Homo sapiens: one gene and its partners. The protein of the gene in region 2 purifies or fractionates together with the protein of the main gene of each other region. This does not show direct contact. Each region holds a gene or a part of one and is shown on either strand. Other genes may lie near its edges.

The links.
Region 1: the proteins of EEA1 (region 2) and GRHL2 fractionate together in Homo sapiens (co-fractionation; one large-scale study listed by BioGRID). This does not show direct contact.
Region 3: the proteins of EEA1 (region 2) and TOM1 fractionate together in Homo sapiens (co-fractionation; one study listed by IntAct). This does not show direct contact.
Region 4: the proteins of EEA1 (region 2) and AIF1L purify together in Homo sapiens (affinity purification with mass spectrometry; one large-scale study listed by BioGRID and IntAct). This does not show direct contact.

What each region holds. Positions count from the first base shown.
Region 1 is NC_000008.11:101,663,439-101,666,832, reverse strand, and holds part of GRHL2 (grainyhead-like protein 2 homolog), read right to left. Parts: intron 2,380-3,394; coding exon 2,315-2,379; intron 245-2,314; coding exon 130-244; 3' UTR 1-129. UniProt on the Homo sapiens protein: Transcription factor playing an important role in primary neurulation and in epithelial development. Binds directly to the consensus DNA sequence 5'-AACCGGTT-3' acting as an activator and repressor on distinct target genes.
Region 2 is NC_000012.12:92,775,796-92,779,295, forward strand, and holds part of EEA1 (early endosome antigen 1), read right to left. Parts: coding exon 3,320-3,500; intron 2,385-3,319; coding exon 2,146-2,384; intron 2,142-2,145; exon of another isoform or gene 2,003-2,141; intron 1,889-2,002; exon of another isoform or gene 1,869-1,888; coding exon 1,748-1,868; intron 1,148-1,747; coding exon 1,049-1,147; intron 339-1,048; coding exon 216-338; 3' UTR 1-215. UniProt on the Homo sapiens protein: Binds phospholipid vesicles containing phosphatidylinositol 3-phosphate and participates in endosomal trafficking.
Region 3 is NC_000022.11:35,323,894-35,327,393, reverse strand, and holds part of TOM1 (target of Myb1 membrane trafficking protein), read right to left. Parts: coding exon 3,480-3,500; intron 124-3,479; coding exon 7-123; intron 1-6.
Region 4 is NC_000009.12:131,117,031-131,120,530, reverse strand, and holds part of AIF1L (allograft inflammatory factor 1-like), read right to left. Parts: intron 2,776-3,500; coding exon 2,613-2,775; intron 297-2,612; coding exon 209-296; 3' UTR 1-208. UniProt on the Homo sapiens protein: Actin-binding protein that promotes actin bundling. May neither bind calcium nor depend on calcium for function.

The DNA.
Region 1 (3,394 bases), on a different chromosome or scaffold from region 2:
CAGCACGGTCTTGTAACAGCAGTTGTGAGATGGGGGAGATGGGTCTCCAGGTTCTGGGGCTGGGGCTTCTGTCTCTCTCAGGGAGGAACGCACTGAGAGCTCCAGCCAAAGCGGATGCCAAACCCAGGGCTAGATTTCCATGAGCGTGACCTTGAAGCCCTCCACCATGCTCTCCATGTTGAGGATGAAGGTGTCCTCGTTCGAGTAGTGCTCGATGATGTTGTCATCCATGTTCACCAAGATGCTGCCATGGAGGGGGGAGGGGTGTGAAAAACAAAGACGCCGTGAACAATGTGCCCAGGGCAAGGGGAGCTCCAGGCTGGGGGTTCTCGTAGCCATTCTTTTGTGGTGGAGGCTGGGAGGAGTGGAGGAGAGAGGACACAAGGCAGGGAAAGACCCTCATTCTGTTTTCTTTGCCCAAAAACTAGTTTGAGGAAAGCAAAGCCTCAATTTCTCAGAACTAACATTCAACCCAAACCGCTTGCATTATAGATGAGTAAACTGAGGCCCAGGGAAGTTAGGAAGCCCAGAATCACAGTTACTGATTACCAGGGCCAGAACCTAAATCATTAGGCTCTCTCTCTAACTCTTTTCAGTAAACCATGTTGCCCTTGAAAATGCATTTTTAAAAATGCATTGCCTCTGCTCTTAGGAGGAAGAGGAAAACAAGCAAGAATTGCAGCTACCCTTTTTTGAGCATGTAATATGACCTTGTGTTTAGTTCTCACAGCAACTGTGAAGGTAGGTGTCATTGCCATTTTGCAAATGAGAAAACTGACCTCAACAAGGTTAAATTGTTTCCCCAAGTTCATTCAGTTAGCACATGGCTGAGCTTGATTTTGAAATTAGCTTTACCTCATTCTGACACTTGTACTTTACCACCTGTGACCTACTCCTGTGGCTAACTATCCCTGATAGAGTTTTAAGAAAGCCAACAGCTTCCAGAGACTTCCATAATTTCCTTAAGCCAATTTCATGATTTGAAGTCAGACAGATGCTGGTTTGAGAATGAACCACTGACTGACTCTATCATTTTACAGTTATGTGTCAGCAGGCAAGCTGTTTAGCCTTTCAGAGCCTCAGTTTATCCTCCTGTAAAAATAAGAACAGTCACTTAGCTTTAACGGATTGTTTTTATGATAAAAACATTTAGCACAACACCTGATACAGAGCTTGATGAAAGCAAAATGTTATCATCAGCATGTACCTCTGCACTGAGGATTTCTGCTCGGCAATAAGACTGTGAGACACGACTGAAATCTCACTGTCAGTAATACACCCAGCCTACTACATTGACCTCGGCAAGAAGTATAACGTGCATTTTAGTGAATCTTCCAACAAGAGCTCAGGTGGAAAGGGTTTCCTGTCAGATCCTCCAATCAACCAACAGGACTCATCACTCAGAAAGCCTGAGCTTCCCAGATAATCCAATTTCCTTTATGAAAGTGATCCGGAGAAGAGTTGACTCATCTTCTGCCTTTTGTAGGAAAATACCCCAGAAGCTGAGTCAACAGATACCCTCTCCTGGCACTTCCACTAGCTCCTGTGGCCCCTACTCTTAGACCGTCACACATAGGAAGCCCACACAGAAAGTCAGACGGCAGAACGTGGAAGCTAAGCACTTGAGCTTTGAGGACACAGATGGGTTCAAATCTGTCCTCTACCTACTGAACATGAGACTTGGGCGACATGCTTAAGCCCCCTCTGGCTTGCTTTCTTCATCAATAAATCAGCGATAAGAGATTCCACCTCATAAAGTGGTGAGAACTAAATAGAGGAATACATGTAAAGTACTTAGGAAGGGACCCCAAACCTACTGAACACCCAGTAAATATGACCTGTTGTTCTTAACAATGAGAACACACAGGTCCAATGATCATTTGAGAACATTTTCTTGATAATTACCTTAGAGGAATCCCCTATGTTCCAAACCATTTTTTGTTCCTAGTATGCCACCCAGAAACCAACCCCAAGGGCCATACGTGATTCCCTATAAACTCCACTCCCTGCAGAAAGGTGATTTTGCCATTCTCCCCAGTGTCCACAGCACCTCCAGACCTCTGTGGTCTTCCTGCTTGTCTTGTCATTGAAATAGGCATCTCAGTTGACATAGTGCCAGTGCACTGCCTCCCTCCCTCCCTCTCTCCTAAAGATCTTCCAAATGCAATCTCCTCTGCAATTCTCTGGAAGAAGGACACAATTTTTATGAAAAGTGGGCAACAGACCTAACAAAAGACAGGCATCATTTTATTTTTAAGGCATCATGTGGATTTATCTGATTTGAAAGTCAATTTAAGTTCAGTTTCTTTCTTACCCTTTTTTGCTTTTCTTGTAAAGCTTTGCTATCTTCTCCACGGGCAGCCCATATTTCTCAGATATCTGTAATACCAATAACAAGAAGGCAGATGAGCACAGAAGGACGCCCAACTGGAGGCAAGGGGGAAAGTTCCAGTTTCACTCCCTTGGACATTTTCCCAGGGATAGAGTGCTCTTCACTCATGAGTCGAACTCTCAAAACACTCATTTATGAGCCTCTCCCTTTGGATAGACTTTAAATCATTCAACAAAAAACCCAGCCTCATGGGAATTCAATCTATGATAAAAGTAGCGTTCCAGGTCAGTCAGAAAAAGATGGACTGTAACTATGATGTTGGATGAAATAGTAGCCATCTAGAAAAAAATTTAACAAGTTATATTGGATTCCTTCTCCACTCCTTACACCAAAATACATTTGATACAGATCAAAGATTTACATGTGAAAGATGAAACCATAAAAGTAGAGGAAGAAACCATGAGTTAATTTTTTGGACAGCTGTCATCTTAAAGTAAGGAAGATCTTTCTAAGCAAGACATGAAACCTAAAGAAAAAGGTCGAAAGGTTAATAAAAACAACACAACTTTAAAAACGCAGTACAGAAAAAAAAAAACTAAAATGCTAAAGACAAAAAAATACACTGGGAAACATTTTTGCAACAGAAATGACAGACATGGAACTAACTTCCTTAAGTTAAAAAGAACTCCTGCAAATCAAGAAAAAGATCAGCAATTCAATGGGCAAAGGAAGAAAAATCCTGAAGAAGCAATTCACGGAAGAAAAATAATTGGACAATGAGCATATAAAAAAATGCACCACACAGTCATAATTTAAAATTTTCAAATTAAAGCAAAGTAGGATACTACTTTTATTTTTATTTATTTATTTATTTATTTATTTATTTTTTGAGATGGAATCTTGCTCTGGTTCCCAGGCTGGAGTGCAGTGGCATGATCTCGGCTCACTGCAACCTCTGCCTCCCAGGTTCAAGTGATTCTCCTGCCTCAGCCTCCTGAGTAGCTGGGACTACAGGTGAGTGCCACCACACCTGGCTAATTTTTGTATTTTTAGTAGAGATGG
Region 2 (3,500 bases):
AAATGGGAAAAAAGTAATGAAAGATGATAAGCCCAAGTCTCACAAAAATAGAAGAGTTTTACTTGATATCCATAACATTCCAAAATATACTAATTCCTATTTGGTCTAGTATTGCAACCAGTGTCCAAACCAAATAGTAGTCCAAGACCTCTATTAAGTACATTTATTAAAAATCTAATGTTAGTGTAATATTACTCTGAAGTTGTGATAACCCATTATCCTTGCAAGTCATTGAAACATGCATCACAGACACGAACAGGCTTCTTGGAGGAAGGAGTTAAGGCATTTTTGGCTGAACATTCAGCACAGAAGATATTTCCACACTGTCGGCAGTGATGCTGTAAATGACAAAAATTAAACAATTTCAAGAATAAAAACTATACCAAAAGTATTATGAAACTACATGAATACCACCAACTACATTATGAAGGTACATTAGCTTTCAAGTCATTGGTATATTATTTAATGATATGTTTCAATATGTTAACTTAATCTCTGTTATAATTAAATTGAATGCTTCCTATTTATCAAACACTATGCTAAACATTTTACATAGAATTTATTATGGAACTCTCAAAAGAACCAGAGGAGGCATTTAAAAAGTTTTTATAAAGTATCTCTATCAAATGAAAAACTATTCCTATTTGCCAAATGTTTCAGGCACTAATGTCTCCAAAAGAAATATAAACTTAAGTCATTAACACAATGGTAGTATTTAGAATATATTTTTAAAATACCTCTGCTTTTTCTTCCTTTAAAGAACCCAATGATTACTAAAACATGAGTTTAATATTGGTGCACTGATTCAGAAAATGATTGTCCCAGACAGTAACTAAGTTGGAAGACAAGGACTGAATTTAAAAGTAAAATTCAAACACATATGCTAACCAAAAGCTAGACTGCATGAAGTTATTCTATGTTGTTGTTAAAGTTTACTGATAAACAGAAAATTATTCTGTCAAATGAAGGACTATTTTGATGGTTAAAACATTAATTATCAGTGACAAATGAAATCCAGAAACATAGTTACATGAACAAAATTATTTACCCGTCTCACTGTTACTGAAAAGCCTTTCCCACAGGCCATACAGTTTTGTACTTCATTGTCTTCGGCCCACTTTCTATTCAACGCTTGTGTATGTTTGATCTGTTTTTTAAAGAAGTATCGATATATTATAGTATTCAACATTTTAAAGAATGCTAGATTATTTCTAACTTGCTGCCAGAGTTCTATAAAATTTTGACTATATGACCCATGAAATAAAATTTTAAAAATCAGAAATACACTGGTCAGCTTCTATTGTCAAAAGTAGCTATACTCATAAATCTGAATGACAAAATAAAATTAATTGAATTTTATTCCTGAAATATCTTGCTAACCTTTGCTGATTTCCAATCCATTCTAAACATAATGATGAATTTTCCCTGGTGACTCTGAGAATATACTCAGATCGCTTCTTTAACACATACTGACTCATATATTCTTTGGTATTCTTGAATTTTGTAGTTCTTTCCATATACTAACAATTAATGAATGACATGGCTTTCTAATGAATCTCTGAGGTCTCTGAAACAAGTTCTTTACTTTTATATTTAATTATCCACAAAACCTACAATACTGCTAAACAGAGAGTAGCTATTTGAAAGTATTTATAAAACATGAGATTTTTTAAAAGGTAAAAATATGCTTTTCACTAATAAGCCAATTCTAGACTAAAAAACTGCTTCATATCCATAGGTGACTGACCTGAAGTGATTGGTTTTCTCTGCCCAGCTCCTGCACTGCTGCAGTTGTATTATCCAGCTTTCTTTGCAATTCTAATACTTTGGTTTGAAGCTTTTCTATTTCACCTTCTCCTTTAAGACATCTGGAATAGATTGCAAAGAGGTAATTAATTTTTTAGAAAATCATTTAAAGACCCTTCTAGGGTATAGATAATGGACTACTTTAGTAATTTAAAATATATGATACATTAATTTTGACTATCTGATTGTTTTACAGGTTAATTTTTAAATGGCTACTTAAATACCTATAGAGGCTTATGCACTTTTCTCAAGATTCTTCTATTTTTAAAAACTATGGAATATGACAATCTTTTTATCACTTACAATGGAAATAAACTAATTTTACTAGATATCAATCACCTTTCCAGTAGTGCTCTCCTTTCATCTTGATTATTCTGAACCGTTGCTTCTAATACTGCAATTTCACCCCGTAAGTCATCCGTTTGTTTCTCAAGCTCACTAACTCTCCGTTGACTAGATTGCCACTCCTTCTTCACAGTGCCTAAGTTTTCATTTAATGCTGTAATCTGCATGGTAAGTTTAGCCTCATTTTCTTCATGCTTCTTCATTCCTACTTCCTTTTCTTTTATTTCGGAATGCTGAAAAAAAGGAAAAGTTGGGGGGAAATCTATTACAAAAGTAGTGCAAAATAAATGTAAGTGATTTATTACATTTAAAATACTGGCAATTTGCTTCTTCGGGAATGGAGGCAGGAGAACATATTTCATTACACATTAATAAAACTGATTCCACAAGCATCTATGTAATATGAATTGGCTCAAAGGTCAAAATGCTGAAATGATGGATAGTGACCATCATGATGGTGAGCTAAAGTGACACAATGTGAGATCTTTCTTCTTCTCCACCAGAGCAGGAAAGACACATATGGTTAGGGATAGCAAGGTGCCCTAGAGACAAAGCTGAAATTTCCTTATTCGTCCCAATTCCATATGCTTTCTTTTCTCTATCAGTCTGCCAAAAACCATTATGAAACCTTCAAATGACTGTTTGAAGTTAAAATTGAAACTCTTCAACTAAAATATTCAATGGCCAAGTTATCTGGGCATATTTGGACTTAATTCAACAGAGGAAAGCCAGATGCTTCCCATTTGGCATGTGCAACTTAGGAAAGGAAAAGCAGACTTTGTTCATCATAATTTCAAACTCAAGTTTCCGCTCCCCCTTATCAACATTCGTTTTGACCCAACAAATGGGTTTAACATGACTAGCATTCACACCATTTACCAGATCTACGTAGTTGTGGGGTTGTTTAGCTTCTGACACTTAAAAAACAAAAAAAATTTTTTAATTTTATTTCATTTCAATGTTCACTTATAAAAACAGAATTATGGTTACAGGGTAAAATATTTCCAACCACATGTCAGCTATGTAAATAAATCAGATCTCCTTCCTTAATCAAAAACTAAAATGTTAGGAAAGCATTTCAATCAGATCTTATAAGTAGAACAGTCCTCTCACTGGATTGATTTAAAGCTCTACTGCAAAACACACTTCCCCCGATTAACTCACTGACCAACTTAGCTTCTTTCTCAATAAATTCTTTCTTCAGCTCCTCTTCTTCCTTTTTCACCTGGTCTTTTAGTATCTGCTGATTTCTCTTCTCCTGTTCAACAGCTGCCTTCAGGGAGTCCGCTTTTCCTTGAAGTTCTAATTTCTGCTGAATTAGAAGCTGTTTAGCATCTTTAAGATTTGTT
Region 3 (3,500 bases), on a different chromosome or scaffold from region 2:
GCTCACCTGCAGCAGCTCCAGGTCTGCGGGCTCGGCCTGGGTGGGCACCAGCTCCGTCAGCATCTCCGACATCACCCTCACGTTCCCACTCACCATCTCCAGCTCACTGCGCAGCTTCCCAATCTGAAACACACAGTTGATCGTGGTGAGAGAAGCCAGGGTTCTGGGGCCCATGTTACTCACAGCGACAGAACCCAGTACCACCAACCCTGGGTGCAGCACCAGGGAGCCGACCTCCCAGCAGCCTCTCTAGGCAGCCTCCCTCCTGGCTCCCAAAGTGACAGCTCTGCACTAGAGGCCTGCCCCACCCCTTCTACAGACCCCTCACAGAGGCGCTACCAACCGTTACCATCTCCACACCGGAATGAGCCACCACGTGTGGCTGGAAGACTCCAGCATCTCCTGGGTCTAACACAGCAGCTAACAAGGCCCTGGAGGGTGGCTCCCCACAAGGCGGGGAGGGACGCTGCAGGCCCTCTCTCTCTCTCCCACTAGAGGACTGGGATTCTGCCCTCTCTCTCTCCTCCTAGAGGACTGGGATTCCGCCCTCTCTCCTAGAAGACTGGGATCCCCCCCTCTCTCTCCTCCTAGAGGACTGGGATCCCACCCTCTCTCCTCCTAGAGGACTGGGATCCCGCCGTCTCTCTCCTCCTAGAGGACTGGGATCCCGCCCTCTCTCCTCCTAGAGGACTGGGATTCCGTCCTCTCTCTCTCCTCCTAGAGGACTGGGATTCCACCCTCTCTCTCCTCCTAGTGGACTGGGCTTCTGCCCTCTTTCTCCTCCTAGTGGACTGGGATTTTGTCCTGTTTCTGGTCTATTTTGGTGTCCCAGGCTCATCTAAGGATAGTCCTTGCCCTGTACCCCACCTTGAATATGAAACTCAGATTTAGCACTTGTTCCAAGGGATGTGGGCAGGTTTTCAATGGTCAAAGGGTTCCAAGGAGTTGGGCTTGGGGAAACATTTTCAATAAAGCTGCAGTCTCCTCAAAGAGGTTAGCTTGTGAAAGGCCATTGGTATAAGGATCTTATGCTGTGGGACCTTGTAGGGTGTTTAATGCCCTCATGCACACTGGGAATGCCTGGGAAAAGATCAGTCTGAAAGCTTCTAAGATTTATTTGACTGAAGAACCTTTTTATGTTTTGAGAAATGCTGGTACATTCTAAATCATGTGGCTGAGTTATAGTTGATTTCAGAGTGTCACTATATACATTCATGATTGTGACAGCAGCTACCATTTATAGACTACCTAATAAGTGCCAAGCATTGAACATATATTGCTAACTTAATTTTTTACCATGGTAGACATCAATATCCCTGCTTTTATAGATGAAGAAATGGAGTGTAGAGACTAGTAGTATATCCACTATGGTTCACTGACACCTTCCAAAACCTGCAAAATGTTTGATCTATTTGGCTTACTTAATGAACACTCTTGGTATGAGTGAGTGGAAAAACTACTGATCACAAACCCCATGTATCCAAATCAGATGGGACTTAATTACAGAGGAGTCTGGGAGTAACATCACTGCACACCTGATGTCTTAACATGTCCCAAGAGACAAAAGGGGACTCTCGAATTAAACAAAGATTAGTTTTGTTTAGCAAGCACCTTCTTGCATTGGAAGTAATTAGCGTCTTAATCCACACAGATGCTAGACTTCAGAAAATTGGTTAAAATCATAACTGAGTTAGACAATCACAAGGTGGTTTTACAATTTTTTACACACCTTTAACCCACTCAGAAAAAAAAAGTGCAGCTCGCTGTCAGCACTCATTTAATTTTACATAAACATGCTCTTTGAGGCTGAAGTAAACCTGACTGATTTTCAACATGAAAATAAAACATAAAAACTGTTCTTGGAGTTATTTCTAAACAGAACTTGTCTCCAATCCTAACGTAACAGAAATGTATATGAGGTTACATTAGGATTAGAGACAAGAGTATTCTTGGGGCAAACGGGCAGTGCGTTAATAATTTTGTCCAGTTAGCAAAATTTTCTAGTAATATCTGTAACTCTGAGGGGTGATTTCATAACTTGCTATGAGAAAACAAATCATGGAAGTTTCTCTTCAAATAGGTTAGGGTGAGAATGAGTTCAAATGATACAAAAAGTGGGCAGTGGGGACGCTTATTGGGAAAGTTAAGCTTCACTTTTCTTTCCATCACACATCCGTGTCTAACTCACCAGCACACTCAGCAGCTCCACCTTTACGCTCCGCGGATGTGATGGGCCTGATGTGTGTACAACACCTTTAACGTGGGTGTCTCCACAGTGTGCAGGCCTCTGCCCCCACCCCAGCAGCCAAAAGTCTAGAATGACAAGCCCCCAGCTCTACGAGCTGGTCATGGCTGTAGAAGTCACTCAGCAGATACAGCAGCCATGGCACTCCACAAGCAGCTCATGGCCCAGTGGGCCATGAGGAGGAAGGAAGTGACATGCCCAGGGTGCCACCTGCTCTGAGGTGGGTAATCCTTCAAAGCTAGTCAGAGGGCTGGGAAAACCTGTCCCCTAGAATCTCATACTAAGCCTCAAACCTTCTTGGCTGGGTGTGGTGGCTCATGCCTGTAATCCCAGCACTTTAGGAGGCCAAGACGAGTAGATCACTTGAGCTCAGGAGTTCGAGACTAGCCTGGCCAACATGATGAAACTCCATCTCTACTAAAAATACAAAAAATTAGCTGGGCATGGTGGCTCATGCCTGTAGTCCCAGCTACTCAGGAGGCTGAGGCAGGAGAATTGCTTGAACCTGGGAGAGAGAGGTTGCAGTGAGCCTAGATGGTGCCACTGCACTCCAGCCTGGGTGACAGAGCAAGACTGTTTCAGAACAAACAAAAAAGCTTCAGACCTTCTTGAGACTTCATGGGAAGCAGCATGGTACAATGTACATATGTTTTTTATTTTTTGCACAGATGTTTGAAAACTTTTCAGGCAGAACCTCTCTTCAAATGAAGCCTTTTTTTTTTTTTTTTTTTTTTTTGAAACAGGTCTCTCTATGTTGCCCAGCCTGGTCTCAAACTCCTGGGCTCAAGCCATCCTCCTGCCTGAACCTTTGAGAAGCTAAGATCACAGACGCACGTGACCATGCCCAGCTCAAATGAAAGCTGTGAGTGTGTAAGAAACCACACAGGTGGAGCTGGCCTGAAGGGGCTGCGTACAGGACACCTCTCCATGGTGCTGTTGGAGGGCCCCGCAGAAAACACAGGTTGGAAAATGGCCAAGGTACAGGGCAGTGCCTGCCAGGAGTCAGACAGACGTGAGCTTGGATCCCAACTGTCTCTGATGACTGTGTGCTCTGGGCAAGTGAATGGACCTCTCTGAGTCTCATCGCTCAAACAGGAAGAACCACACATACCCTGTGGGCTGCTGTGAGGAAGAAGTGGAGGCTCCGTGGATGGTAAATTCTGACAGGGGGCCCTCCCTGACGTGTGTGGCCCACCTGCCTGGACCTGACGGTTCTGACCCCAGGCTCGTTTACCTGTTCCGGGGTTGGTGCTAT
Region 4 (3,500 bases), on a different chromosome or scaffold from region 2:
GAGGGAGGGGACCCAAGGCTCAGGATTCCCCGACCCAGAGCCCCTTTAAGGCAGATAATTTGTGCTTTACAAAGACATTGATGAAAACACAAACAAACCCTCAATGACCAAACAAATGAGAGAGAGAGAGATCACAGTGTGTCAAGAAGGGCAGCAAGATCGGGAGGGAGGTATGGGGTGGGAAGGCTGGGGAGTCCAGGCGGGGTCCTCAGGGCAGGCTAGCAATGTCTCTCTCTGGAGGGGGGCCAACTGGCTTGGGGCTGCTCTCGTTGGCTTTTCCTTCAAACATCATGACTCTGGTTTGGAGATGGAGAAAAGAAAAAAAGAAAGAAAAACAAGATTAGGATCCTTCCCTCATCCAGGGAAAGATCATCCCAGCCTCATGTCAGCAGGGTCCTCAACAGAATTTAAATCTGTTCTCCAGTGGGATCCTTGCAGAAGCCCAAGACAGCAGCTCCAAGGAAGGGGCTGCTAGTCCCATTTTACAGAGGAGAAAATGGAGGCGCAAAGTGGTGATATGACTCCTCAGAACCACACAGGCGGTCCAGGGCAGAGGCTGGGTACGACTCCAGGCTTCTGACTTCCAGGCCATACCCTTCCCTTAACCACACTGCCTGGAGGAGGCTGAGCCAGGCTGGGCCACGCCTCTGCGCAAAGATCTTCAAAAACCTGCCCACTGCTCTGAGAGTGGTGTCTGGGGAGTAGAGGGTAGGGGCTCAGCGTATAACCTCTAGGGCAACTGCCTAGATTCAAATGCCAGCCCTGCTACTTCCCAGCCGGGTGGCTCAAGCAAGACACTTGACCTCTCTGATCCTTGGCGTTTCTCCCTGGAAGTGGGGTGCTAGAAGATCTGGCCAGATTGGACCGTGGGCTCATGGGCCAGGTACTCAGTCTCCTTGGGCCTCAACAAGCTCCTTTGTAAAATGAGACAGGTATATTTTACATTCGTACTTTAAAAAAGTGAATCTTATTTCATAAAAGCCAAGTAAGTGTTATTTTCTGTTTTCTTTTTTTTTTTTTTTTTCTTTTGAGACAGAGTTTTGTTCTTGCCGCCCAGGCTGGAGGGCAATGTCACGATCTCTGCTCACTGCAACCTCCGCCTCCTGGGCTCAAGTGATTCTCCTGCCTCAGCCTCCCGAGTAGCCAGGATTACAGGCGTGAGCCACAACACCCAGCTAATTTTTGTATTTTTAGTAGAAACGGGGTTTCACCATGTTGACCAGGCTAGTCTCGAACTCCTGACCTCAGGTGATCCACCGGCCTCAGCCTCCCGAAGCGCTGGGATTAAAGGCGTGAGCCAGGGCACCTGGCAGAGTGTTATTTTCAGCTGTGACAAATGACAATGAGACTGCCCTGGGGCAATGCTGTAACGCTCTTCAATGGGGCAGCACCCACAATGTGCTACCACGTAGTAGGTGTTTGCCATCAGCCACACAAGGCTGAAATCTTCATAAGTGTCATTTCACTAGCCCTCAGGACATCACGGAAGACATGATTATCACCCCTATTTTATAGATGAAGAAACTGAGACTCGCAGACCTAAGGTAACTTGCCCAGGGTCATTTTGGTAGCAAGTAATAGCATCAAGATGCAAACCCTGCCTCCCTTTGGGGCCAATTTTTGACTCTATTTTATGCTTACAAGCCTGTGGGGGTAGTGGAGGTGCTTTACAAATGGGGAAACTGCCAGGCATGGTGGCTCACGCCTGTAATCCTAGCACTTTGGGAGGCCGAGGGGGTCTGATCTCTTGGAAGTCAGGAGTTTGAGACCAACCTGGCCAACATGGCGAAACCCCATTTCTACTAAAAATACAAAAATTAGTTGGGTGTGGTGGCGCACACCTGTAATCCTGGCTACTCGGGAGGCTGAGGCAGGAGAATCACTTGAGCTCAGGAGGCGGAGGTTGCAGTGAGCTGAGATCATGTCACTGCACTCCAGCCTGGGTGACAGAGCGAGATCTCAAAAAGAAAAAAAAAAAAAAGGAAAACTAAGGCTCGGAAAGTTTCAACAGATTTATCACCATTATCACCATCACCACCATCATCATCATCACAGTTGCCACTTACTGAGTACTGATTCTGCCTGACTCTGCTACAAGCTAATTTCCCCTACAGGGTACATATTAATATGACCATTTGGGCCGGGTGTGGTGGCTCACGCCTATAATCCTAACATTTTGGGAGGCTGAGGAGGGCAGATTACCTGAGGTCAGGAGTTTGAGACTAGCCTGGCCAACATGGCAAAACCCCGTCTCTTCTAAAAATACAAAAATTAGCCAAGCATAGTGGTGCATGCCTGTAATCTCAGCTACTAGGGAGGCTGAGGCAGAAGAATCACTTGAACCCAGGAGGCGGAGGTTGCAGTGAGCCAAGATCACACCACTGCACTCCAGCCTGGGCAATAGAGTAAGACTCCATCTCAAAAGAAAAAAAAACAAACAAACAATTGACAGATAAGGAAATCAGGATCAGGAGAAGTAAGTACCTTGTCCAGCAGGTCGCACAATGAGTTACCTACTAGGTGGGGAATGGCTGGGGTGCCCAGAGCCAGGGGCCTCTCTGCACAGAATGATTTTGCCTTCAGAGATCCCAAGGGAGGAAGGAGGTACTCACAACTTGAGGACAGCCGACCGTTTCCCCAGCATCATGTTCACAAAGTCTCGGTAGGATATAGTGTCACTGACCCCTCCTGTCACCTCTGAGATCATCTTCTTCATCTCCAGGTGGGTCTTGGGGACACCAAGCTTCTCCATCATCCTCTTTAAAGACATCAGGTCTGCCGGGGGAAAAGCAGATCTGTTAAGTGGAGATGGGCTGCTGGGGCTTAGCAGGGAAGCTGGGAAAGCTCCACTCAGGCACCCCACGCCTAGAAACTTGGCGTCTGCACTCCTTCTCTAGGGAGGAGGAGCCCATCACGCCCTCCCTGCTCTCTTTGGAGGCCGTATAGGCTAGTGGTTAGTGACCTGGGCTTCTAGAGTCAGACGGGCTTGCATTGGAATCGAGCTCTGCTATTCCTGGCTCTGGGATCTGGGGCACACTACTTAACCTCTCTGAACCCCTGCTCCCACCAACGGTGGAACGGGTGGATGGGATCATTCAGGGATCTCTGTGCAGGAAGCACCGGCCCAGAGCACTTTCTTCACACCATGACTGTGGGCTCTGCTATTTCCTGCAGTTAGGGTGGGCTGGGTGCCCACTCTCCTGCTGCCTGGGGAGTTATGCCCAGTGTGGCAGGGTCAGGAAGTCAGGCATTGAAAGTAACTCTGCTGGGTGCCGAGTGGCAGGTGGCTTCTCCCCACGTGCCACTCCTGTCCTGCTGTCCTAGGGCTCTGCCCCGGCTGGAAGGGAGAGGATGCCAAAAATATCCCACAGAGCAGGAAAACCAACAAAAGAACAAAATTCAAGAAAAACAAGGGAGGCCCCAGAATGTCACTCCAGCCCGAGGCGGTGCTGTCTCTGACCGCCCAGCTCCCACCAAGATCTGAGGCAATTTCCTTTGGA